7 linked regions of the Homo sapiens genome follow. The protein of the gene in region 1 interacts with the protein of each later gene in a biochemical or structural test. Each region holds a gene or a part of one and is shown in the gene's direction. Other genes may lie near its edges. The genes, in order: SHROOM3, GRIP2, ARHGEF11, DOCK4, GOPC, DLG2 and PALS2.

Evidence for each region.
Region 2: the proteins of SHROOM3 (region 1) and GRIP2 interact in a test that uses a peptide from one of them, tested with the Homo sapiens proteins (one large-scale study listed by IntAct).
Region 3: the proteins of SHROOM3 (region 1) and ARHGEF11 interact in a test that uses a peptide from one of them, tested with the Homo sapiens proteins (one large-scale study listed by IntAct).
Region 4: the proteins of SHROOM3 (region 1) and DOCK4 interact in a test that uses a peptide from one of them, tested with the Homo sapiens proteins (one large-scale study listed by IntAct).
Region 5: the proteins of SHROOM3 (region 1) and GOPC interact in a test that uses a peptide from one of them, tested with the Homo sapiens proteins (one large-scale study listed by IntAct).
Region 6: the proteins of SHROOM3 (region 1) and DLG2 interact in a test that uses a peptide from one of them, tested with the Homo sapiens proteins (one large-scale study listed by IntAct).
Region 7: the proteins of SHROOM3 (region 1) and PALS2 interact in a test that uses a peptide from one of them, tested with the Homo sapiens proteins (one large-scale study listed by IntAct).

What each region holds. Positions count from the first base shown.
Region 1 is NC_000004.12:76,441,729-76,445,228, forward strand, and holds part of SHROOM3 (protein Shroom3), read left to right. Parts: intron 1-3,500. UniProt on the Homo sapiens protein: Controls cell shape changes in the neuroepithelium during neural tube closure. Induces apical constriction in epithelial cells by promoting the apical accumulation of F-actin and myosin II, and probably by bundling stress fibers.
Region 2 is NC_000003.12:14,533,843-14,537,342, reverse strand, and holds part of GRIP2 (glutamate receptor-interacting protein 2), read left to right. Parts: intron 1-3,500.
Region 3 is NC_000001.11:157,035,743-157,039,242, reverse strand, and holds part of ARHGEF11 (rho guanine nucleotide exchange factor 11), read left to right. Parts: intron 1-3,500. UniProt on the Homo sapiens protein: May play a role in the regulation of RhoA GTPase by guanine nucleotide-binding alpha-12 (GNA12) and alpha-13 (GNA13). Acts as guanine nucleotide exchange factor (GEF) for RhoA GTPase and may act as GTPase-activating protein (GAP) for GNA12 and GNA13.
Region 4 is NC_000007.14:111,870,900-111,874,399, reverse strand, and holds part of DOCK4 (dedicator of cytokinesis protein 4), read left to right. Parts: intron 1-1,835; coding exon 1,836-1,933; intron 1,934-2,047; coding exon 2,048-2,131; intron 2,132-2,309; coding exon 2,310-2,410; intron 2,411-3,500. UniProt on the Homo sapiens protein: Functions as a guanine nucleotide exchange factor (GEF) that promotes the exchange of GDP to GTP, converting inactive GDP-bound small GTPases into their active GTP-bound form. Involved in regulation of adherens junction between cells.
Region 5 is NC_000006.12:117,564,512-117,568,011, reverse strand, and holds part of GOPC (Golgi-associated PDZ and coiled-coil motif-containing protein), read left to right. Parts: intron 1-977; coding exon 978-1,158; intron 1,159-3,500.
Region 6 is NC_000011.10:83,468,345-83,471,844, reverse strand, and holds part of DLG2 (disks large homolog 2), read left to right. Parts: intron 1-117; coding exon 118-219; intron 220-2,471; coding exon 2,472-2,644; intron 2,645-3,500. UniProt on the Homo sapiens protein: Required for perception of chronic pain through NMDA receptor signaling. Regulates surface expression of NMDA receptors in dorsal horn neurons of the spinal cord.
Region 7 is NC_000007.14:24,674,452-24,677,951, forward strand, and holds part of PALS2 (protein PALS2), read left to right. Parts: intron 1-3,500.

The sequences.
Region 1 (3,500 bases):
TTTTTGTTTTTGAGATAGAGTTTCGCTCTTGTTGCCCAGGCTGGAGTGCAATGGCACGATCTCGGCTCACTGCAACCTCTGCCTCCTGGGTTCAAGCGATTCTCCTGCCTCAGCCTCCCAAGTAGCTGGGATTACAGGCATGCGCCACCACACCCAGTTAATTTTGTATTTTTAGTAGAGACGGGGTTTCTCTATGTTGGTGAGGCTGGTCTCAAGCTCCCAACCTCGAGTGATGTACCTACCTCGGCCTCCCAAAATTCCGAGATTACAGGCGTGAGCCACCCCACTCGGCTTCCCAGTGGCTTTTTATTATACAGGTATATAAAGGTCCTATAAAGGTAGTTGTTTGCATTTGGCGTCCTGCCAATAAATTGTACTCGTTAAGGCCAGATGGGTTTTACTCATGCTGTATATATTTCTTCTCTTAGCAAAATCTTTCTCATTTACACATAGCAAATGCTTAATAAATGTTAAATGACTTACAGGATTGTACAGCTATAGGAAAATTAGCAATCATGTAATAACTTTCTTCGTACACAGAGAGAAAACTGAGATGCAAAAAAAGTTGCCAAGATGGTTTCAGTCTTAGCAAATTGAGAGTATGTGTGTATCTGTGTGTATGTAAAGCCCCAGCTAGTAAGGAAGTAATTGCTTTCTCTGATTGTGCCCTTTATAGTTTTTTTTTTTTTTTTTTTTTTGGAGACAGAGTCTTGCTCTGTCGCCCAGGCTGGAGTGCAGTGGTGCGATCTCGGGTCACTGTAAGCTCCACCTCCCGGGTTCACGCCATTCTCCTGCCTCAGCCTCCTGAGTAGCAGGGACTATAGGCGTCCGCCACCACGCACGGCTAATTTTTTGTATTTTTAGTAGAGATAGGGTTTCACCGTGTTAGCCAGGATGGTCTCGATCTCCTTACCTTATGATCCGCCCACCTCGGCCTCCCAAAGTGCTGGGATTACAGGCGTGAGTCACCGTGCCCGGCCCCACCCTTTATACTTTTCTATGAATCCTAGCTCCCCTGTTAGACTGTTACCTTCCAGAAGCTAAAGACCCTTCATTGATTCCTTTTCTCTCTCTCTCTCCCCTTCCCTTCTTTCCTTCCTCCTTTTCTTTTTATTATTCGTGGTGCTTAAACTATACGTAACAATTATGAAAATGAAAATGTGAATGAATAAAGAGGAAGATAAGTATTAGAGAGGATATTCTTAAAAATCTTTGTTAGAAGCTACCTAGGCCAGTGTGCACACAGGTTACTAGAAAAACCTGTTTAAAAACTAAGGCAAGCAGGTTAAGTTGGGCTCAGTCTGACCATGTCTTTCATATGCACATATGTAATGTTTGGTAAATGTCTGTTGAATTGAATTAGATTGAGAAAAAAGGGAAACTCATGTTTTTCTTTAACTTTTAAACCTTTAAAAATTAACTATTATTTTAGTTAAAGTCTTACGCATTTTTTAGTACAAATTAATTTTGATATTTCCTATCAATGTTGTTGGAAATAACTTTTATTCAAGTAGCATGCTGACATGCTGTACCAAATGGGTCTTAGCATCAGTAAGAACTCTGCTTTCTTTCACAGCTAATAGATTCCCAAGGCTTTGCCTTCTATGCAGGGGACACAATTTATTTTAAGAAATATTCATCTCATTTTAGTGAGCCCACAGTGTGATTGGAGAGGCATAATGAGAGACTTTCTATCAATTTTTGAAAAAACAAAACCTCAAAGGACATGCTGGATCTTAACTAATCCATAGACAGACTCTTCCACATCTCTCCCTTTGATGTAGTTCCAAACAGTGAACATCTTATCCAAAGGGCTGCAGTGCAGAGTCCTTGTTCTCCCACTTGGTTCATCCCAGGAGTCCATCCATCTCTTGTGCTCTGACATCCCAGGCACTTCTCAATGAAACAAAATGAGGCAAAGATTCTCTACTAAATCTAAGCACTGTTTCTCCCCCTCTTCTAATGACTTTCTCCACAAAGGCTACATGGGTACGCTGTGGATCTTGGTTTGTAGAATGGAAGTGATTCTTTTCTGCCTTCAGAGGAAGCTTTCCTGATTTGGCAGACCGATGTACAGAACACTCTGTCCTGGGCATCTGAACCTGAATTTGCACTTATGTCAACTACATTTTTTCATTCCTCAATATCTATTTGTTTTCTTCTCCATTTTCAGCAGTATTTTTTTCTTGGAGATTTATGAGATTATTTATTTATTTTGAGACAAGACTTCATTCTGTCACCTAGGCTAGAGTGCAGTGGCATGATCACAGCTCATTGCAGCCTTGACCTCCCTGGGGTGAGCTTCTTACCTCAGCCTCCCAAGTAGCTGGGATTAAAGGTGGACACCACCACACCCGGCTAATTTTTGTAGAGGTGGGGTTTTGCTATGTTTCCCAGGCTGGTCTCAAACTCCTCAGCTCAAGTGATCTGCCCACCTCAACCTCCCTAAGTGCTGAGATTGCAGGAGTGATCCACCACGCCTGGCCTAAACCTTTATTTTTGAATGCTCTTTGGTGCATGTATATTAATTTATATTTGTAATTTCTATGTTATATATATGTATATATGTATATATATATTTTCATTTTAAGTGAGGTTTTCCAGCATAGAAAAAAGCTTACATCCCAGACAATATAGGGCTCTGAGTGGGAATAAACAAGTTTTATTTCTACCCTAGCTTTTACTGGCTATGTGACCATGGCAAGTAACAGCCTTCTTGAACCTCAGTTTCCAGTTTCCTCATCTCTCTTTCTTTCTTTTTTTTTTTTTTTTTTTTTTTTTTTGAGACGGAGTCTTGCTCTGTCGCCCAGGCTGGAGTGCAGTGACACGATGATCTTGGCTCACTGCAACCTCCACCTCCCGGGTTCAAGCGATTCTCCTGCCTTAGCCTCCCAAGTAGCTGGGACTACAGGCATGGGCCCCATGCCTGGCTAATTTTTGTATTTTTAGTAGAGATGGGGTTTCACCATATTGGTCAGGCTGGTCTTGAACTCCTGACTTCGTGATCCGCCTGCTTCGGCCTCCCAAAGTACTGGGATTACAGGCATGAGCCACCACGCCTGGCCAGTTTTCTCATCTTTCAAAGGCACCAGGCATGGTGGCTCACACCTGTAATCCTAGCACTTTGGGAGGATGAGTCAGGTGGATCATTTGAGTCCAGGAGTTCAAAACCAGCTTGGGCAACATGGCAAAACCCTGTCTCTACAAAAAATACAAAAATTTGCCAGGCATGGTGGTGCATGCCTGTGGTCCCAGCTACTCAGGAGGCTGAGGTGGGAGGATCGCTTGAGCCCAGGAGGTGGAGATTACAGTGAGCCAAGATTGTGCTACTGCACTGTAGCCAGGTGACAGAGCCAGACATTGTCTCAAAAAAAAAAAAAAAAGGAACATTCTTACCTAATGAAGTTGTTATAAGTATCCAACATAGTATAAGCTATGCAATAGTGCTTTGTAGGTATCCAGCATAGGTAGGCAACTCATATGCCAAAGATGATACTTGG
Region 2 (3,500 bases), on another chromosome or scaffold:
CAGGGTGCGTGTGTAAGTTCCAACAGGCGGATGGGGAAGGCCTCCCTGAGGAGGTGACATTTCTACAAGTTCCCGAAGGAGCTGAGACGGGAGTTTTGATGATGTCTGGGGAAGAGTTTTGTGGGCAGAGGGAACAGCCGATGCAAAGGCCCTAGGGGGATGTGAGTCTGGTGGGCCTTGGGTCGAAAGGACAGATGTGTCCAGGAAGGCTTCACCTCCCTTTAGAGTGCAGTTGCCAAGGTGGGGTGGGCCCATAGGGTCAAATCTCCGCTTTGTCACTTCTGGCTGTGTAACCAGGAACAAGTCACTTAGCATCTCCATGCCTCAGTTTTCCCAGCTGTAAAATGGGGAGAATAACAGTGCCCAAGTGGCAGTGTGGTTATGAGGATTAAGTGAGAAAATGCAGTGTGCTGGAGTGGAGCTGGCCAGGGCGAGCATCAGGAGGTGAAGTCAGGGGACCGGGGACTGACAGTTGTGGTGAGGACTTCTGCTTCTACTCTCCCTGAGCTAGACACAGTCTTCTTGTGACTGCAGGCAGCCGCCATTGGGAAACTGAATGGTTCTGTGGGTGACCCTGATTTTGAGGTCACGTTCCTTGACATTGCTGGTTTTAGAGTAGGGCAGGAGAGCAGGACCCAGAACGCAGAAGGCCAACCCCCAACTTGAGACTGCGCCCCCGCTCTCCCATGGTGGGATGTTGGCCTGCGTGTGGCTCAGGCCTGCTGGACAGGAGCCCCTCTCCCTGTGTGGAGGAGGATTGTGGGGGTGGCGGCCTCTCCAGGTGATGCCATGGGTCCTGCTAGCCCTGATGCACCCAGCCTGTGAGTGCCTGAGCCCTAACTTAGGTATTCTTGGGATACTGGAGCTGTCACCTTCCCAGTGCCCTGATGCTTCTCATTTGGGGTCTGTTGCCCTCCTGTTTGGAGGGAAAGAGCAGAGCCAAGGGTTCAGGGCATGGTCTGTTGTGAGGTCAGGGAGCCCTGGGTTCCAGGTGCCTCTGCAGCTCACCAGCTCAGTGGCTTCTCTGGGCCTCAGGCTCCCTATCTGTAAACTGGGGACAATCGGTGAGCCTCCCTCCATGGTTCTTAGGACAATTAACTGACTTAGCATTCATAAAGTGCTTAGAGCAGGCCTGGCCCAGGGAAGGGCCCAACACTGGGTGCTACTTATTAAGGTTCTTTATTTTTTTCTTTGCAATCCTTGGCAACAAATGAATGAGGCTTCAAATTTTTAAATGTATTGATGCATTTCTTTTTGTCTCCCTGAAAAACGTGCTTCTGCCGAGCTTATCTGATCTTTCTATGCTGCTCTCCCCATGGAAGCTGGGCTTCCTGGGAGGCTTGTCGCCCGTGGGGATTGGAACTGTCATTCAGAGGTCAGCCTGTAACTGGCTTTGAGGCATCTCCATCGAGCCCTTGGCCTGTTCCAGCCCTCAGTGGCCAGGGAGGAACGCCCAAAGGAGCTGGGGCTCTGCCTGGAGCCGAACAGCCCCGGGGCTGCAGGCATTACAGCAACTTCCAGGCTTGCATGGATGGGGGAGTAGGCAGGAAGGTACCCAGAGGGTAGGGCCAGACCCCTTAGGGAGCCAGAAGGCCTGGGCTTCAATCCTGGCTCTGCCACTTAGAAGCTCTGTGCCCCTGGGCAGTTCCCTTGACCTCTCTGTGCCTCATTAGGCCTGGGTTCAAACCCTGGCCCTGCCCTTTATCATGGGATATCACTTAACCTCTCTGTGCCTCAGTTTCCTCATCTGTAAAATGAGAATCATGATTATACCGCCTCAAAAGTGGTGAGGATTAAATGAGATCGTGCTTAGGAAGCACAGAAACCAGCACTTAATCACTAGGAGCCATCATCATGATTGATCTAGGAAAACCTTTCAACAAGGTGAGGGAAGCAGGCAGGGAGGGAACTGCCATGTTTTATGGTTTCTGTGCACACTTCCCCACAGTTCCTCCCAGCAACCCATGAGGTGGGCACCAGTACCCCCATTTTGCAGAGGAGAAGTCTGAGGCTCAGAGAGAAGTGACTTGTCCCAGATCCCTTAGCCAGTTGGCAGCCGATTTAGAATCAAAGTCCCAAGTTGGACTGACTCCAAAGCCTATCCCTCCCTTCCCACCATATCAACAATCCCTTCCATGGTGGGGCGAAGCTGGCTGGGGCTGGACCGTCACTTGGTGGAGTACTTAGCGCCCATGTCCTCTTCAGCACCCAGGGTCCCGGTGAGCTGGCATGGTCCTGGCCGACAGCTCACCGTCCCTGCAAATCATGTCCTGTTCGCCCCAAGTGGAGCCTCTGGGCATTTGTTTTCTCAGTGGTCCCTTTTGAGATGCTGAGTCCTCCCTCCAGGAGGCTCACAGAACAGGGCAGCAGTCAAAGCCGGCTGACTTTATAGTCCCACCCACTCCCCCACGCTTCTTTCCAGCCACCCGCTTAGGCAGGACCCTGGCGAAGGCAGCCTGGCAAGGAGTTGACTTCCTTTTCCCTTTGTCAAAGCTCAATAGCCCCCTGAGGCCCCAGAGAGCGGGAGATAATGAAGGCAAATTAGCCATGATTTCAAGAGAAATAAAATAAAAAAGAAGGCCACCCACCCCGGCTGCAGCGTGGGCCTGAGTACCAGGTGCACAGGTCTGAGCTCCAAGCACGTTTCTCCCTCTGTCCCTCCTCCCCTGACTTGCACACCCCACATTCGCCGGGACTGGCTGGCACCACTGCGGAAATGAATTTTCCTCTGAAGCGAGTTCCTACAGGACGATTGACTGAAGGCAAAAGCTCATAATTGCCCGTTGCTGGAAGGAGGAGACAGGGAAAAAAAAAAACATGGATAAAAATATCTCTGTTTTTTATGCACGTTTCCAGCTGAAAATTGGTGGGAAAGATGTTTTTGAAAAGCCTTCATCTCTAAGCATATAATTACCAGGTCCTGGAACAAAAAAGAGAGAGTGGGAGAGAGCAAGCATGTTCTCTGAGGAGGGGGCCTAGGGTCTGACCCCCCCAAGGGGTTTTCTATAAATAAAGTAATCCCCTCAACTTCTCAAGCTCTGGCCAGCTGGAGTCAGCCATGGGAGAGACACCCCCATTTTACAGAGGGGAAAATGGAGGCTCGAGTCACACAGCCAATTGTAATTCTAACCCTATTTTGATTCTTGGTTTGGATGCTGCCTCAGTTCCCCCCCATCTGAGGATGTTCGTGAAAGAGAGGCCCTATGTCCCCTCTGAATAGGCATCAGCAAACACTGCAGCATTCCTTCCGGGCACCTTTCTGACTATGCCAGGGGGTCTTGGGTGCTCAGAAGCCTCTCATCTGGCAACTCGCCTATCAAGAATGGCTTCTTGACTTCCACAAGAGGCCACCAAGGGCACACCCTGAGATGCCTAGGGAAGTCTCTCGAGGCCTCGCCTGCTGCCCACTGACTCTTTGCGCACAGTAGTATGACTTGTTTTGCAGCACGCAGTCAAGTCTCTGACAGCTGGGAAAAGAGATGGCTCACAGGCTGAACCCC
Region 3 (3,500 bases), on another chromosome or scaffold:
TGTCCTTTCAGTGGGCCAAATGGTTTTTCAGAAATCATTGTCTGGCTTTCCTGAAAATCAGTGAAAATGAAAGCTTGAAAAGAACAGAGAACAAAGCTGCCTGATCAAATGGGAGAGAAGATGGAAGTACAGGGACATGGAAACATGGGGAGGAACTGAGAAATCCATGGCCCCTAATAGAATTGGAATAGGATTTGGAAGGTGGTTTTGTTTTTTGTTTTTTGGGACAGGGTCTCACTCTGTCGCCCAGGCTGGAGTGCAGTGGCATGATCATGGCTCACTGCAGCCTTGACCTCCCCAGGCTCAGGTGGTCCTCCCACTTCAGCCTCCTGAGTAGCTGGCATTACAGGCATGTGCCACCACACCTGGCTAATTTTTGTAGATATGAGGTTCACCATGTTGCCCAGAGTGGTCTCAAACTCCTGAACTCAAGCAATCTGCCCACCTCGGCCTCCCAAAGTCCCAGGATTATGGGTGCAAGCCACCACGCCAGGCCTGGAAGGTGTTCTTAAGGTCTGGAAGAATACCCCAATTTATTGTACTAAAACAATTGGACAGATTTCAGGAAAAAATCACAAAAATCTGGCAGGACTTCAAGGGATCCTCTTGCCCTTTACTCTGGACTCCAAATAGGGTGTCTCTTAACCTAGTAAAGACAGGTTGAAGGCCTCTCCCATTTTCAGTGATCTCTGGAGGATGGTTCCATTAGTTCAACAATTAGAAATCCCTTTGGATACGAAACTTCCTCTGCCACAATTTAAAACCATTTTATTGTCTTTCTATTGTGATTTCAGCGTAGGCCTTAAAGTCACTAGTATCCCTCTATTACCATTGTTGACTTCCTTAAGATTTTCCTCCTCATTTTAAAGAATAGCAAACTAAGACATGAATATGTGAGAAAGGGGCTTTGAAAAGTTAGAGTGAAGTAATTTCAGAGTCTTGCTTTCCAGACCCTGCTCCTTTCCAGTATTTGGGAGCAGCCACTACAAAGTGGTGTGATGGGATCTGTAGTCATCAGTCACAGCCTGGCCTCAAATCATGTAGGGAACCAATCTAGCAGCCCTCCTGGTGATGACCTGTGATCTGTGGCGCTTGACGGTTGGTTGGACTTGAAATATTTATCAGATGGCTCAGTGCAGTTCTCAGTGTTCTGAGAGATAGTACAGGAGAACATAGAGCTTACATTCTTTTTTTTTTTTTTTTTTTTTTTTTTGAGACAGTCTTGCTCTGTCACCCAGGCTGGAGTGCAGTGGCGTGATCTCGGCTCACTGCAACCTCCACCTCCTGGGTTCAAGCGATTCTCTGCCTCAGCCTCCCAAGTAGTTGGGATTACAGACACCTGCCACCACACCCGGTATACTTTTTGTATTTTTAGTAGAGACGGGGGTTTCACCATGTTGGCCAGACTGGTCTCGAACTCCTGACCTCAAGTAAACCGCCCACTTCAGCCTCCCAAAGTGCTGGGATTACAGGCATGAGCCACCGTGCATGGCCTCAAGCCTAAATGCTTGTTGGGAAATGTTATTAACAAAGCAACACAAAATAAAAAGATGGTACATAATTGCTGAATCGTTATGTACACCAAAAGGTACATTTAGAGAAGAGTGCAAGGTTGGTGCTAATAAGAATAGTCAAAGGCAGAGTAGTTAGGAATTATTCAGGTCGAAGAAAGAGAAGAGGCCATTTCAGACTAGAGGAGCAACACGAGCAAGGTTCTGTCTGGGGTGGCACCAACATGGTGTGGTCTCCAAGTGTTAAGATTATTGTAGAGCAGAGAGAAATTAGATTGATAAGATGGGTAGGGTAGGGAGAATGAAGGGATTCAGACTTTATGTGGTAGTAGAAAGGGAGCCGGGGAAGGTTTATGTATTATATGGTGATAAACATAGTGTTTAAAGAGAGAATTCTGATATTAATATATAGAGCAGAAGAGAGCTTGGGGTTAGGAAGCCTAGGAGTTTTTGTAGCAATCTTAGGAAAAGATAACGAGCTTCTGAATCAGAACGGTTATGGTGGGGACAAAGAGGAGTGGCAGGATTCCCAAGACGTTTTGGTAGCAGAATTAACCAGTATTTTAAGACTGAATCAAATTTATTTATTTATTTATTTATTTTGAGACAGAGTTTTGCTCTTGTTACGCAGGCTACAGTGCCATGGCACGATCTTGGCTCACTGCAACCCCTGCCTCCCAGGTTCAAGCAATTCTCATGCCTCAGCCTCCTGAGTAGCTGGGATTACAGGTGCCTGATCCCATGCCTGGCTAAGTTTTTATATTTTTTAGTAGAGACGGGGTTTCACCATGTTGGCCTGGCTAGTCTCAAACTCCTGATCTCAGGTGATCCGCCCGCCTCCACCTCCCACAGTGCTGGGATTACAGGTGTAAGCCACCGTGCACTGCCCTGAATCAAATTTTATTCCCAAATTTATGAGACTGGTGGACTAGGAGAAGGGTAGTGCTATTGATAGACTAGGATCTTCAGTAGAAGTCATTTTGTCTGCCATTGATACCTAGCAATTTACTGAATACAGTGGATACTTAACCTTCCTTAGACCCTTAGGTTAGGCCATTTCTACCAAATAGTTTTAGAGCTCTTCAATACAGCTTTTTAAGAGAAGCAGGAGGCTGGGCGTGGTGGCTCACGCCTGTAATCCCAGCACTTTGGGAGGCCGAGGTGGGTGGATTACCTGAGGTGAGGCGTTTGAGACCAGCCTGGCCAACATGGTGAAACCCCGTCTCTACTAAAGATACAAAAATTAGCCTGATGTGTTGGTGCACGCCTGTAGTCCCAGCTACTTGGGAGGCTGAAGCAGGAGAATCACTTGAACCCGGGAGACAGAGGTTGCAGGGAGCTGAGATCGCACCCCTGCACTCCAGCCTGGGTGACAGAGCAAGACTCTGCCTCAAAAAAACAAACAAAAAACAAACAAAAAAAAGTGAGTAGTCAGTTCTGGGAGATCCCTTAGGAAGTTGGGTCATGGTTTGAGGAGATTAGCATGTATTTGATGGATCCTGATTAATCAGCCATATATATATATGTATATATATTCATATATGTATTCATATATGTATTCATATATATATTCATATATGTATTCATATATTCATATATATATTTTCATATATATATTCATATATATTCATATATGTATTTTCATATATATATTCATATAGATTCATATATATATTCCTATATAGATTCATATATATATTCCTATATATAGATTCATATATATATTCCTATATATAGATTCATATATATATATTCCTATATATAGATTCATATATATATATTCCTATATATAGATTCATATATATATATTCCTATATATAGATTCATATATATATATTCCTATATATATTCCTATATATATTCCTATATATATTCCTAAATATATACATATATATATTCCATATATATATTCCTATATATATATTCCTGTATATATATTCCTATATATATATATTCCTGTATATATATATATTCCCACATAGCCACCCA
Region 4 (3,500 bases), on another chromosome or scaffold:
TGTTTTCCAGCCCTACTTAAATGGGCCCTAGTCCTCATTCTCCACTGCTGCCACTTGGTAGCCAGCATAGCCACCTCCTTCCTCCCCACACTCCTCACATTGAGCAGGGTCCTGATGGCCCCTGCAACTGCCTCACTTTAAAGGAAGGGAAAGAGAACACAAAGGAGGAGTGAGAGCTGGGATGGGGGTGGAGTGGGAAGTGAGGAGTGAATGGCAGGGGAAATGCACGAGGGATTATGAAAGAGAAGATGCCAGGGAGGGGAGGCCTCCTGAAGTGAGATGCAGGAAGTAGGAAGTAGGTAGGAGGGAAGCAGCAAACTGGGGAGAACAATAGAGCTTTGCCTTTGTCGCCCTGAGTCTCACTCTGTGGAAATATCTGATATGCCAAATATAACCAATCAGTTTTAAAAGGTTTCAGTCATACCCCAGGATGTCTGAATTACATCTGAATAGTCAACATTTTCAGGGTTTTTGGTTATGAAAACATCATAAATCTCTTTTTCAAAGTCAGTATTTTTAAAATCACTTTATTTTTCTCATTCTAATTCCTCCTCCTCCTCTTACCCGTGTTTGTTGCAGATAAACATTCCTGTTTGGTACTGAATTCCTTACTATTAATAGTAAATCCTTTGTGAGGTTTTTCTCTTGAATCTGGCTTTGGTGGAGCTTGCTTCTCTTTCTCCTTGAGATTCTTAATGCTTTTTCTCACTGGTGTTCTCTATATTCTCTTTTTCTTTCTCATCTTACCTACTTCCTTGGTTTGGGGGGTTTGGAGTTTTTGTTCCCTCATCATCTTTCTGTTTCTCAGAAAGTCCCTTTTGGGTTTCTGCTAAAACAAGTGATTTGAAGTAAATTTCCTGCTTCCCTGCCTGGAAATTCTGTCCTGGCTCCTCTCTCGGCCAGTCTAGTCTGGCAACTCCACTGAGCCCTGAGGCCAGTTCTACCAGGTCCCGCTGCCCTGCGCGTGCTCGGCACACGCGAGCCTTCAGTTCTCACTGCATTCATTGGCCTCCAGATGCCACCTCTCCCTGCATGCGTTGGAGACTAATAATGCATGGAGACCATCTCCCACAGCCTTTGTAACTTCTGCCCAAGAAAGATAAATTTATTCCCTCCCCAGGTGAAGAGGTTCTCTAAGGACCTGCTGGACCAAAGCCCTCATGTCTGTTTAGGAAAGGGTTAAAGAGCTGGGCCCTGTGCTTATCTGGACTCTGGGATGAAAGATGGCCTGTGGAGTCCAGGAGCTGCTCTTCTCAGGTTGAGAGCTCCCTGGATGATCTAAGAAATCACTGGGCCTGTTACCATTCTTTTAGTCTGCAAGATTTGGGTCACATTGCCAAGAAGACCTTTGTTCCTGGGTGGAGTTGGTTGCTAGGCAGAGTGCTATGTGCTGGGCACCCAAACGGGAATAAAGCAGGTTCCCAGCCCTCAAGAAACTCTCATCTTTCCAGGAGGAGGCAGAAAAATTAATCAACAAATATTTGTCACCTGCCTGATTTGTAAGGATTTGTAAGTGCTACTGTGATGTGGAAGCATGTAGAAGGGACAGTTAGCTCGAGATTTCAGGAAAGGCTTCCAAAATGAAGCAACATCCGATCTGAGGACTAAAGGATGGGTAGGAGTTTGTAAGTCAAGAGCAGTGGAGAGGAAACAGAATACAGTGAAATAAATGCCATCCTAGAGAGGGCTAGTCATAGTTTGTGGGAGCCTGCAACTTGAGTGGCTAGGAGAGGGGAGCCACATGTGTTAAGAATTTTACTTTTACTAGCAGAACGCTTTCATGTGAGGACCTGTTCTCTATTAAGGCAATTAATCTTCCTTTTCTATTTTGAAAGGTGATATGCTTGATCTTTTGAAATGGAGAACCCACCCAGACAAGATCACTGGCTGTCTCTCTAAATTAAAAGAAATTGATGGCTCAGAGATAGTAAAGGTATATAGTATTTCATTACTATTTTCCTTGCAGAGATTCATAGAATAAAGAACATTTGGAGGAAAAAGACAGATAGTATCTTATTTACTCATTTGCTACTTCTTTATCTAACAGTTTCTGCAGGATACACTGGATACCTTATTTGGAATTTTAGATGAAAATTCCCAAAAATATGGGTCTAAAGTGTTTGATTCTTTGGTAAGTTCAAATTCCCTTAATTGTATTTTAACTGTTTTGTCTCTCAATCTTGACTTTCATGAGGCTGGTTCAGAAACATGTGCTTAATAATGTAAGAGTTCATTTTAAAAAGAAGCAAAAAAAAAAGGAAAACCTTGATTTGCATTTAGTTTTATAAAGCTCAATTTTCTTTTTTTAGGTTCACATAATAAATTTGCTGCAAGATAGCAAATTTCATCATTTTAAACCTGTAATGGACACTTACATTGAGAGTCATTTTGCTGGGGCACTTGCATACAGGTAAGGCCCTGTATCTTGTAATTAGTTTAGAAGTGGTTCCTTTCAAGCTTTTCTCAGCAGAAGAGGCGATATAGGAAAATTTAAAAGGGAGTGTAGGAAGAAATGGAGCACTACTGAAGTGTCTCTTGAGATAGTCTCTTCCCTGCTAACACACCCTTTTTAAATGGGTAGAACTTATTTTGATTAAAAAGGGAAAAAAACCTCCTGAATTCTATTCCTGAGCCCTAAAATATAAAGTCTTTCCTTCTTGTCTCTGTTTCACTGGATATTCTTTGGTCTAAAATGTCTGGTTATCTCACTTCGGCTGTTAAGAGTCCCACTTCATCACTGTACTCCCTGATGATTATAAATGTTCATAAGAAAGAAATATGAATGGAAAACAACCTTTTCCTTCACACCTGCTGAAAGTCATCCATTCATTTATGTTAGGATTTACTGAGTGCCAGCTGCTTGCCAGGCACTGTACTTTATGCTGATGATGTGAAGACCTGGTCCCTGGCCTCAGGCAATTTAGTCATTGGGATCTACTCTTTGATAGGAGCTGCTATTTTAACTGCTCCTCCTTTTCTACTGGCTCAGGTGGTGCTGAAAAGTTATGAATAATATTATGCTTTGGCTAGTGCCTGCCTCCTCTCAACATAGTTGATAATTGCCAGAGGCCACAGCTTCTCTCTTTTAGTTCGACAAATAACTGCTTAAATAGCCTTGGAGTGTACCCCATCGTCTGTCTCCCAGTCCAATATGGTCCTTGCTGTTCTCCCATATTTCTACCTTATACCTTAAGCACCTGTGGGCATGCACATGCCTGACTGTTCCCTGAGGTGAGTTTAAAAAGCATGAAATCAGGTTGATATCCTTCCCCCATCTATGTAATATATAAAGGTTAATAGGTTATCAGATAAGCATTTGATCCTGTTTACTTGGATATTCCCAGCCATGACAGGTTAAGATCGACGTCTCCAACATCGAAATGAATGAAGGTATTTTTGTTAGACTTGACACTTCATCAGTGTGATTTTTTGCTGAGAGTGAAATGCAACCGCAGGAATAGTTTTGAAACATCGGCCCACTCAGCCTAACAATTTGGGCC
Region 5 (3,500 bases), on another chromosome or scaffold:
GCCATGTTGCCCAGGCTGGTCTAGAATTCCTGAGCTCAAGCGATCCACCTGCCTCAGCCTCCCAAAGTGCTGGGATTACAGGTGTAAGCCACTGTGCCTGGCATGATCTGTAACTTTTTACTTGAATGTTTCATTGTTAAAGAATGACAGTACAAATATTACACAGTTAGTCTAGCATAATATAAAGATTAAGGACTTCAGAGTCAAACTTTTGTTTTTCTTTATTCTTGTTCATTATGTAGGGAAAGTTATCTGCTTTCTGCAGGACTCACTCAGCTTTCTCGTTCATGTAAAAGAGACTATAATAGGATTATTCTGGGGATTGAAGGCTATAATTTATAGTAAATATATAAATATAGTAATTACTATTAGTACGAGACAGAATACCTTGATTAACACTATGTCTGTGTCTGGTACTCAGTGTAAGTTCTTACTCAAGACCTATTGAATAAGAAACAAAAAATCATTTTGTAGGAGTTTCTTGAATTAGTTAAGAAAAGATTTATATGATGTCCTTATGGCAGTGTACAAAAATCATTTTCTAGGGGTTTCTTGAATTAGTTAAGGAAAGGTTTGTATGATATCCTTATTTAATATCTGACTATTTAGATGTATTTGCTGAATTGCTGTGTGCAGTACAAAGTAGCAAATAACTTTAAAACTGAATACTTGTTCCAAAATTCTATAAATTTAATAATTAAGCATCCTCTTAAATTTTAGATCTATTAGCAAAAAGACTATGGTCAGTAGAAAGAGCTACTATAATGTTTAAAGGAACTGTAGAGAGGATTCACGAGGCTGATCAGACATGATGGCCTCACTACCTCTTTAGATTCTAGAATTTTATTATTTATTTTCTGGAAATCAGCTATCTCTTAGATCTCTCTACCCCTAAGCCTTCCCACAAAGAATTTGGAAATCCTTTTTAAATTACAATTACAATAACTTGACTTTCTCATTTTCATTTCCTGTTTTAGAGAGGAGAGATTGAATTTGAAGTAGTTTATGTGGCTCCTGAAGTGGATTCTGATGATGAAAACGTAGAGTATGAAGATGAGAGTGGACATCGTTACCGTTTGTACCTTGATGAGTTAGAAGGAGGTGGTAACCCTGGTGCTAGTTGCAAAGACACAAGTGGGGAAATCAAAGTATTACAAGGTAAAAATCACTCTAAAAATTATTATTAACATATTCATTATTATTAAATGTTTAAAATGTGAAGGCCTCAGAATTTCTTCAGTAAAACTGTTTTGTGAGGAAATCAAAGGAATGAAGAGCTTTCCCTTGTTTATTGTTTTATTGTATACTATGCTAACAGTTTATTTACCATATATGTTCTTCTATATTCATCTTGGACTGTTAAGACAAGTACATTACCAGTTACTCTACTGCAAGTGATCCTTGAAAAATAAATAAAATTTTTTCTAGACTCTGAAACAAAGACCAATATACTATTTTGAGTAGATCTATCTTGTAGACTACATTGTCTGTCTGTCTTGATGCAAATTCATCTCTCACAATGAATTTTAAGCTAATTATGAATAAGTATGAAGTATACTGTCACCTTATGATTGCTATTAGAATCAACTTATATTATCTTGGGGATGTTTGGTTTAGTTCCTTTGCTATCATTTAGACATATTTTAAGGAAAAACTCTAGCACTTCCTTTTACATAGAGCAGTGGTCCTCAAATTGTGATCTGTGGATCTCTGAGGGTCTCTGAGATATTTTAGCAGAGTTCATGAGGTCAAAGCTTTTCATAATAATACTAAGACATCATTTGTCTTTTTTTGCTATGTTGATATTTGCACTGATGGTATCTGGTTGATGCAAAAGCAATTGGGGTAAAACTGCTGGTGCCTTAGCACTAATCAAGGCAGTGTTGCTAATACTAGTAACTGTACTAGTAATCATTGTTTTCTTCCTTGCCATCCATTCATAGTAAAAGAAGAAGATACCAATTTTGCTTAAAAATATCTTTGATGAAATGGCAGTAACAGTTAATTTTTAAATATTGACCTTTGAGTACCTGTCTTTTTAATATTCTTTGTGATGAGATGGGAAGTATGCATAAAGCACTTACTCTGCACACTGAACAAAGATGCTGGTTTCAAGGGAAAGTACATAAGTGACTGAACTAGCCATTTTTCTTCATGGAAGACAATTTTTACTTGAATGAATGACTAACAAAGTATGGATTTTCGGACTATTTGGAAGCCATTTTCTTAAAAATGAACAAAGTCCATCACTTCAGGAAAGACAACTGATAATATTTATTGCCAGTGATAAAATGTGAGCTCTCAAGTGAAAGTTAGAACTTTGTAAAACATACGTTGATCACCATGAGCTTGACAGCTTCCTAACACTTAAGCTTTTCTGATGAGATTGATGATGATATTAATGAATGTGATTTTTTGATACAGTAAAGTGAAATGTGTCAACTTTTGGAATTGCTACATAACTTCATGGTCCAATATTTTTCAAATCACCAGTAAATGAAGTTATAAAATTTTGCATGGGAAAAGATCCATTCAAAATGCAAGATAGGCAAATGGATTTTAATATAACAGAGTGTGAAAAGTTCACTGATAAGGTTTCAAATTCCACATTGTCAAATTTTTGTATAATATCAGAGAACAATACTGACAGTTATCTGAAAAGGCTGTTAAAATACTCTTCCATTTAGCAACTACATATCTGTGTGAGGCTGAACTTTCTTCATATACTTGTAATAGATTGAATGGAAGCAGATATATGAAAATACAGCTATCATCTACAAAGCCATTGAAGAGATTTGTAAAATTGTAAAATAATGCTACTCTTCTAACTAGAATTTTTTTGTTTGGAACATAGAGTTATTTGTCATTAGACAAATGTTATTTATATTAACCTTCTGGATTTATTGTCATTTTTAACAAAGAAATGAATTTTTTTTTAGATTTTTCAATTTTACCTACTAATATGGGAAACATCAGTAGCTATAATCCACATAAACAGAAGCTTCTTGGAGTCCTCAATGCTTAGTATAAAGGCCTCCTGAGACCAAAATGTTGAACTCCTGGCATGGAGTTTTATGGTGAACTGATAAACTGTTGCACTTTTGATAAACTTGTGTGTTGTAAACTGTCTGCACAAAGATAGCAGTAGCAGTTACTGTTTTCACTGTGCATCTTGAGCAAAACTATTGTGGCAGTATGTCAAAACCTTAATTGTTGGGCTGCTCTCCATATGGTTTCATTGTATTTCACACTTGCTGTTTTCTGTCGGGATTAGAAAGCCTGTCTCTTCCTTTTTTTTGTAACTGAGGCTAGAAGTCTTCTCTGTCACATATGCAAATTGCAGACACTTAAAATGTGACTCAACTAAAAATTTGTGTGTATATATCTTTTAACTGACTCACTTAAAAAAATGTATCTATTGGTTATTGTTTCACACGTCTATACTTTATAGATATATATATCACCTAAATAGGTGATATAGTCAACACTTATTTATTTAT
Region 6 (3,500 bases), on another chromosome or scaffold:
AAGTAATGCCCTTAGCATCTCTTACTGTCTGGCAATTAAGAATCACCCTTGCAGGACAGTTTTGCAGTTGTTTCCAACTCTTTCTCTTTACCTACATCTTCCTTTCCCATTCTGCAGTAAACTACACCCGGCCGGTGATTATCCTGGGGCCCATGAAGGATCGGATCAATGACGACTTGATATCTGAATTCCCTGATAAATTTGGCTCCTGTGTGCCTCGTAAGTGTCATTTTTCTTTCCTCTAGGAAAAACAAAAAGAGCTTGGATTTCTTTATGAGATGGTAAAATGTAATTCCATCCTCCAGTAGTCTCTCCAGTAATTCAAATACCAACCATTTCCGATTAGCTGAGTGCCTTATTTAATTTATTTGCCTAACACTTTTCATTTATGCTGCCGTGTGTCATTCTGTATTTAATAAAAATAATAATGTTTTCTCTAAACTGATTGTAGCCCCTTAAAAGGCAGGATGAATTTTTGTGGCCCCCAACCATTTAAAACAGCATAGGATTTATGATAGGCATCAGTATGTTTTCATAGATTGATCAAAATGCCACTGAAACATTATTTTTTATAGGATGGAAGAGATCGGAAACAAAGCCATATATTAAAATCCTCTCAGGATGACTTAGGGCCATATGTCAATCCCAAAACCCAATAGGCTTTCCCATGTTGACAGTCCCAGGTTTAGGGAGGGTGAAGACAAGAAAATGTGTAACACTTCAATTTGACCTCTAGGCCATTACAGACTTTAAACTACTTTCTTCTCATTATAGATTATCATCAGGCTTCTGGTCCCTCTGATTGTAGCCTTATTAGATTCTAACTGCTCTGCCTCTTCCCCTCCCCACCCCTACCATACTTTCTCCACTCATTCACCCCGTCTACACCCCGACTCTGTCAAACAGAAATGCATGCAGACCTTCTACGTATGTAGACAGGTCCATCAGGAAATTTTAATTTATTAGATAATGGAGCTCTTACATCTGATACCAACAAATATTTCTCTTCCATTCTATGTGTTTTAAGCCTGATGCTTTCAAGTGTCTCTAACATTCCAGTACTGCAAATTTTACATGAGATACTTAAGAATAGCAGGAATTGTATGTGTCCAGTACATGGCCAAAAGACTAGGATGATTGCTGTATCTCATGAAACAATTCCCAGCAAGGGCTCTGGGAAGAGATCCTGCCATAGAACATATCCTGAGAAAGTCTTCAGACAGGAAGGAGCAAATGAAACTCCAGGTCGTTTACAGCAAGCTTCCAGCTTGCTCCTCCACTTTTGAGAGAAAGAAAACAGAAGGTACTTAAGCATTCTTTCTGCTTTCCCTTTCACCTTGCATATTCTCTCTTTTTTGAATTAATAGAACCATTTTGTGATAGTCAATAGATGTTCATTGTACAAAACTTCAAAAACACTAAAAAGAAAGTTAAACGAGAAAATTAGAAGTATACAAAATCCCACACAATACCCAGAGATAACATCATTGTTAATATTTTTGTACATTTCCATCTATTCTTTCTATGCATGCATTTTTTCTCTGTGATGATTTTTTTGCTTATTTAAAATTTTATATAACTATTTCAAATGATTATTATATCCCAATTAATCATTCTTTATGAACATTTTGGTTTTTCCCTATTTTTCACTATTATGAATTGTGACAAAAATATCATCGTAATTGTGTTATAATTATTACTTATAAAATAATATAATGAATATCTTTAAGGATAAATCTGTATCTGAAGTTTTGATCATTTTTAAAAACATATTTCTAGGAAAAAATAAGTGAGTCAAAGATTAAAAATATTTTAACAGCTTTTATTCATATTGCTAGATTGCTTTCCCCTTCTCTTCTTACCAAAAAATTTAGGTGAAATGGTTAGAGTTGCTGATTTTTAGTCCTATCTAACTGTGATTATCTTATTTTATATATGTTGAGAGTCTGAATTTTATGGTCCTTTATAGAATGTTAAGTTTTTGTTCTGACAGGTGATAATTTACTGACACAGCAGCTTCTTCCATTTGTGACATGGTTTTAGACTTTGTGAAGATGGGTGTAGAGTAAGTCTAGAGTAACCTTTTAAAATGTGGCCTTTCTGGGATCTCCATGGGTTCTGACTCAACTCCCGTGTCTTCTAGCACCATGTGATGTCTAAACTCTCCATTTGGAAATGGCCTCTAGGTAGAGAGGTGGGGTGAATGCTCTCTCATATGTTTCTCTTTTCTCAAAGATTACAGCCCTGTACTTCCTGTTGTCTGATATCTGAAAACAGTTGTTTCATATATTTTGTCCAGTTTTTTAGTTGCTTATGGTGGGAGGGTAAGACTAGTACCTGTTACTATGTCATATTTCTTCATACTACATATTTCTACATATCAATGTTGAGGATGTGGTGGAGAATATAGGTGTAAAGCAAGTTTATGGGTATAAATGCACCTTAATTTTATCATTTTTTGTTTTATAAAGATACTACGAGGCCAAAGCGAGACTACGAGGTGGATGGCAGAGACTATCACTTTGTCATTTCCAGAGAACAAATGGAGAAAGATATCCAAGAGCACAAGTTTATAGAAGCCGGCCAGTACAATGACAATTTATATGGAACCAGTGTGCAGTCTGTGAGATTTGTAGCAGAAAGAGTATGTTCACCAATCTTCTTACACCTCCCCTGAAGAAGGTTTCTAGGTTGCAAACTGCATTTTTTTTTTTTTTTGGTCATTACTCTTTCTTGATTGCAATTGTAAATTTTGATTTAATAATTTAAAACATCCAAGCAGAGAATCACCTTAGAGCAATGTCATTAATCTTTGTTCTAATTTCAATAAAGTATTCTCACTGACTTGGAAAAAGTAGGAAGAGGGCTTTGTCTTTGACTCACTATCTGAGGCCCCAATACACAACCTTGATTTTATTAAGGCAGGTTTACTACTTTAGTTGTAAACCAAGGGGATAGCATTCCTGAATTATTTTGTTAGAGGAAGTTATTTTTTTTCTCTCTCTCTGAAAACTTGACATCCTCATGGTAGAAGAGAAGATAGATGAGAAGGGCTGCCCAGCCTTTTGCTCGCAGAAGTTCTAGCTTAGAGGAGGTGTAGATGCTGCTATTATCTTTTTGCTGGTAACTTCAGGGGCATGGAAAAGAGAAGAATGTTCAAGAGAGGGTACCATAGGAAGGCACCTGGGTGTGGCTACACAATCTGCCTACAGAGGGATCCTATTTCCTGTGAACACAGAGAACCAGTATCATAGGAGAAGATATTTGTTGGGTTGATTTGATTTGCCATGACCTTTCTCAATGTACCGCTAAAGAATTAAGTAATTTTGATGTCTATCTAAGAATACACTAAGAAGTTGCATCTATTTTCCTCCCTCTCAAAAGTTCAGTTCTATCAACTAAATGAATACTGGTTCTAGTCAAACTGTCCTGGATAATTGCACCTATTTTCCTCTTTGTTCATGTTGTTAACTTGAAATGTTCTGACTGGTGAATAATCA
Region 7 (3,500 bases), on another chromosome or scaffold:
AATTATCAAGGGCTTAAAGCCCTCCACAGAACCTTTTCTTAGAATGAATGGGTTTAGTTCAACCATCATACATCTTCAGGGTAATGAACATGCTGCTGGACAACTGGCACTCTGGAAGAGCCTGGTCAGCTCTGTCTGTAACTGTGCTCTTCAACAGCACCATCTCCTCTCAAAGTATTTTCTTTCACTTGTGATTGCTTGTTTGATCCATTGGTTATTTGGGAGTATATTGCTTATTTTCCATATATTTTTGAATTTCTAAAATTTTCTGTTATAAAATTAAGGTGATTTAACTTTCTTTATATATTACAAAATGATCCTAAGATAAAATAGAAAAACATTGTTATTTTAGGGAGATGGGCTATGTTATGCATCCTGTTTTCAATTTAACATTGACATCTTGACATCTTGAGCTTAGTTAACAAATGAAGTATTACTTTGTTGATTGTGTCTTCATTATTTGAAGAGCAGCTAAAATTGAGAATTTTGCCTATCATAAAAAATTACTTCTAAAAAATCACATTATGTAGTTGCGCAGTATAGAAGTCTAAGGAATCAGTTGTAGTCAAACCTTCATGTTCTAATTTCTCTGTTCTAGAAATGGAAAGCAGTTTAAATATGTGGCAACGTAGATTGTTTTTTGAAGTGTTAGTAGAGAATAGGATTGTAGTTAAAATTCACTTGTAAACTAAAGAACATTTCTCTAAGAATTAAGATTCCCTCAGCATGGAGGTAGAGGTAATACATGTGCATATACATATTTATTTCAAGCAGCGCATTCCCCTATATGGTTTCACTGTAGGACTTCACCGAAAAAACATTAATTTTTAAAATTAATGTTCACAATGTTGAACCAAGTCCTATTATGCATTTATTTGGGGAGTTACAAGTTGCCTTAGAAGTTTTTTTATTTTTTTATTTTTTTAAGGTTTTTTTTTTTCCCCTCTTATTATTATACTTTTAAGTTTTAGGGTACATGTGCACAATGTGCAGGTTAGTTACATATGTATACATGTGCCATGGTGGTGTGCTGCACCCATTAACTCGTCATCTAGCATTAGGTATATCTCCCAGTGCTATCCCTCCCCCCTCCCCCCACCCCACAACAGTCCCCAGAGTGTGATGTTCCCCTTCCTGTGTCCATGTGTTCTCATTGTTCAGTTCCCACCTATGAGTGAGAATATGCGGTGTTTGGTTTTTTGTTCTTGCGATAGTTTACTGAGAATGATGATTTCCAATTTCATCCATGTCCCTACAAAGGACATGAACTCATCATTTTTTATGGCTGCATAGTATTCCATGGTGTATATGTGCCACATTTTCTTAATCCAGTCTATCATTGTTGGACATTTGGATTGGTTCCAAGTCTTTGCTATTATGAATAATGCCGCAATAAACATACGTGTGCATGTGTCTTTATAGTAGCATGATTTATAGTCCTTTGGGTATATACCCAGTAATGGGATGGCTGGGTCAAATGGTATTTCTAGTTCTAGATCCTTGAGGAATCGCCACACTGACTTCCAGAATGGTTGAACTAGTTTACAGTCCCACCAACAGTGTAAAAGTGTTCCTATTTCTCCACATCCTCTCCAGCACCTGTTGTTTCCTGACTTTTTAATGATTGCCATTCTAACTGGTGTGAGATGGTATCTCATTGTGGTTTTGATTTGCATTTCTCTGATGGCCAGTGATGGTGAGCATTTTTTCATGTGTTTTTTGGCTGCATAAGTGTCTGTCCATGTCCTTCGCCCACTTTTTGATGGGGTTGTTTGTTTTTTTCTTGTAAATTTGTTTGAGTTCATTGTAGATTCTGGATATTAGCCCTTTGTCAGATGAGTAGGTTGGGAAAATTTTCTCCCATTTTGTAGGTTGCCTGTTCACTCTGATGGTAGTTTCTTTTCCTGTGCAGAAGCTCTTTAGTTTAATTAGATCCCATTTGTCAATTTTGTCTTTTGTTGCCATTGCTTTTGGTGTTTTAGACATGAAGTGCTTGCCCATGCCTGTGTCCTGAATGGTAACGCCTAGGTTTTCTTCTAGGGTTTTTATGGTTTTAGGTCTAACGTTTAAGTCTTTAATCCATCTTGAATTGATTTTTGTATAAGGTGTAAGGAAGGGATCCAGTTTCAGCTTTCTATGTATGGCTAGCCAGTGGTCCCAGCACCATTTATTAAATAGGGAATCCTTTCCCCATTGCTTGTTTTTCTCAGGTTTGTCAAAGATCAGATAGTTGTAGATACGCGGCGTTATTTCTGAGGGCTCTGTTCTGTTCCATTGATCTGTATCTCTGTTTTGGTACCAGTCCCATGCTGTTTTGGTTACTGTAGCCTTGTAGTATAGTTTGAAGTCAGGTAGTGTGATGCCTCCAGCTTTGTTCTTTTGGCTTAGGATTGACTTGGTGATGCAGGCTCTCTTTTGGTTCCATATGAACTTTAAAGTAGTTTTTTCGAATTCTGTGAAGAAAGGCATTGGTAGCTTGATGGGGATGGCATTGAGTCTGTAAATTACCTTGGGCAGTATGGCCATTTTCACGATATTGATTCTTCCTACCCATGAGCATGGAATGTTCTTGCATTTGTTTGTATCCTCTTTTATTTCGTTGAGCAGTGGTTTGTAGTTCTCCTTGAAGAGGTCCTTCACATCCCTTGTAAGTTGGATTCCTAGGTATTTTATTCCTTTGAAGCAATTGTGAATGGGAGTTCACTCATGATTTGGCTCTCTGTCTGTTGTTGGTGTATAAGAATGCTTGTGATTTTTATGCATTGATTTTGTATCCTGAGACTTTGCTGAAGTTGCTTATCAGCTTAAGGAGATTTTGGGCTGAGACAATGGGGTTTTCTAGATATACAATCACGTCATCTGCAAACAGGGACAATTTGACTTCCTCTTTTCCTAATTGAATACCCTTTATTTCCTTCTCTTGCCTAATTGCCCTGGCCAGAACTTCCAACACTATGTTGAATAGGAGTGGTGAGAGAGGGCATCCCTGTCTTGTGCCAGTTTTCAAAGGGAATGCTTCCAGTTTTTGCCCATTCAGTATGATATTGGCTGTGGGTTTGTCATAGATAGCTCTTATTATTTTGAGATACGTCCCATCAATACCTAATTTATTGAGAGTTTTTAGCATGAAGGGCTGTTGAATTTTGTCAAAGGCCTTTTCTGCATCTATTGAGATAATCATGTGGTTTTTGTCTTTGGTTCTGTTTATATGCTGGATTACATTTATTGAGAAGTTTTATTATACACACCTTTGGTGACTAATTCCAGAAACCTTAAAGATCACACAGTTTTAAATATGAAAAGCCATCATAGCATCTTGAAGATTCTCAAAGATACTTTATAAATACTCTTCACAGTAGTCTAAGACGACCACTCTCAAGGTTGAGCCAGAAAACAAGGGGAAAACAGGAGTCCTATTATACATAATGATCTCATTTGACCCTTATTTTTGAGCATGAGTTTGAAGTTCATTTTGTTCTTATAAAAGTTTTCTATGTCTT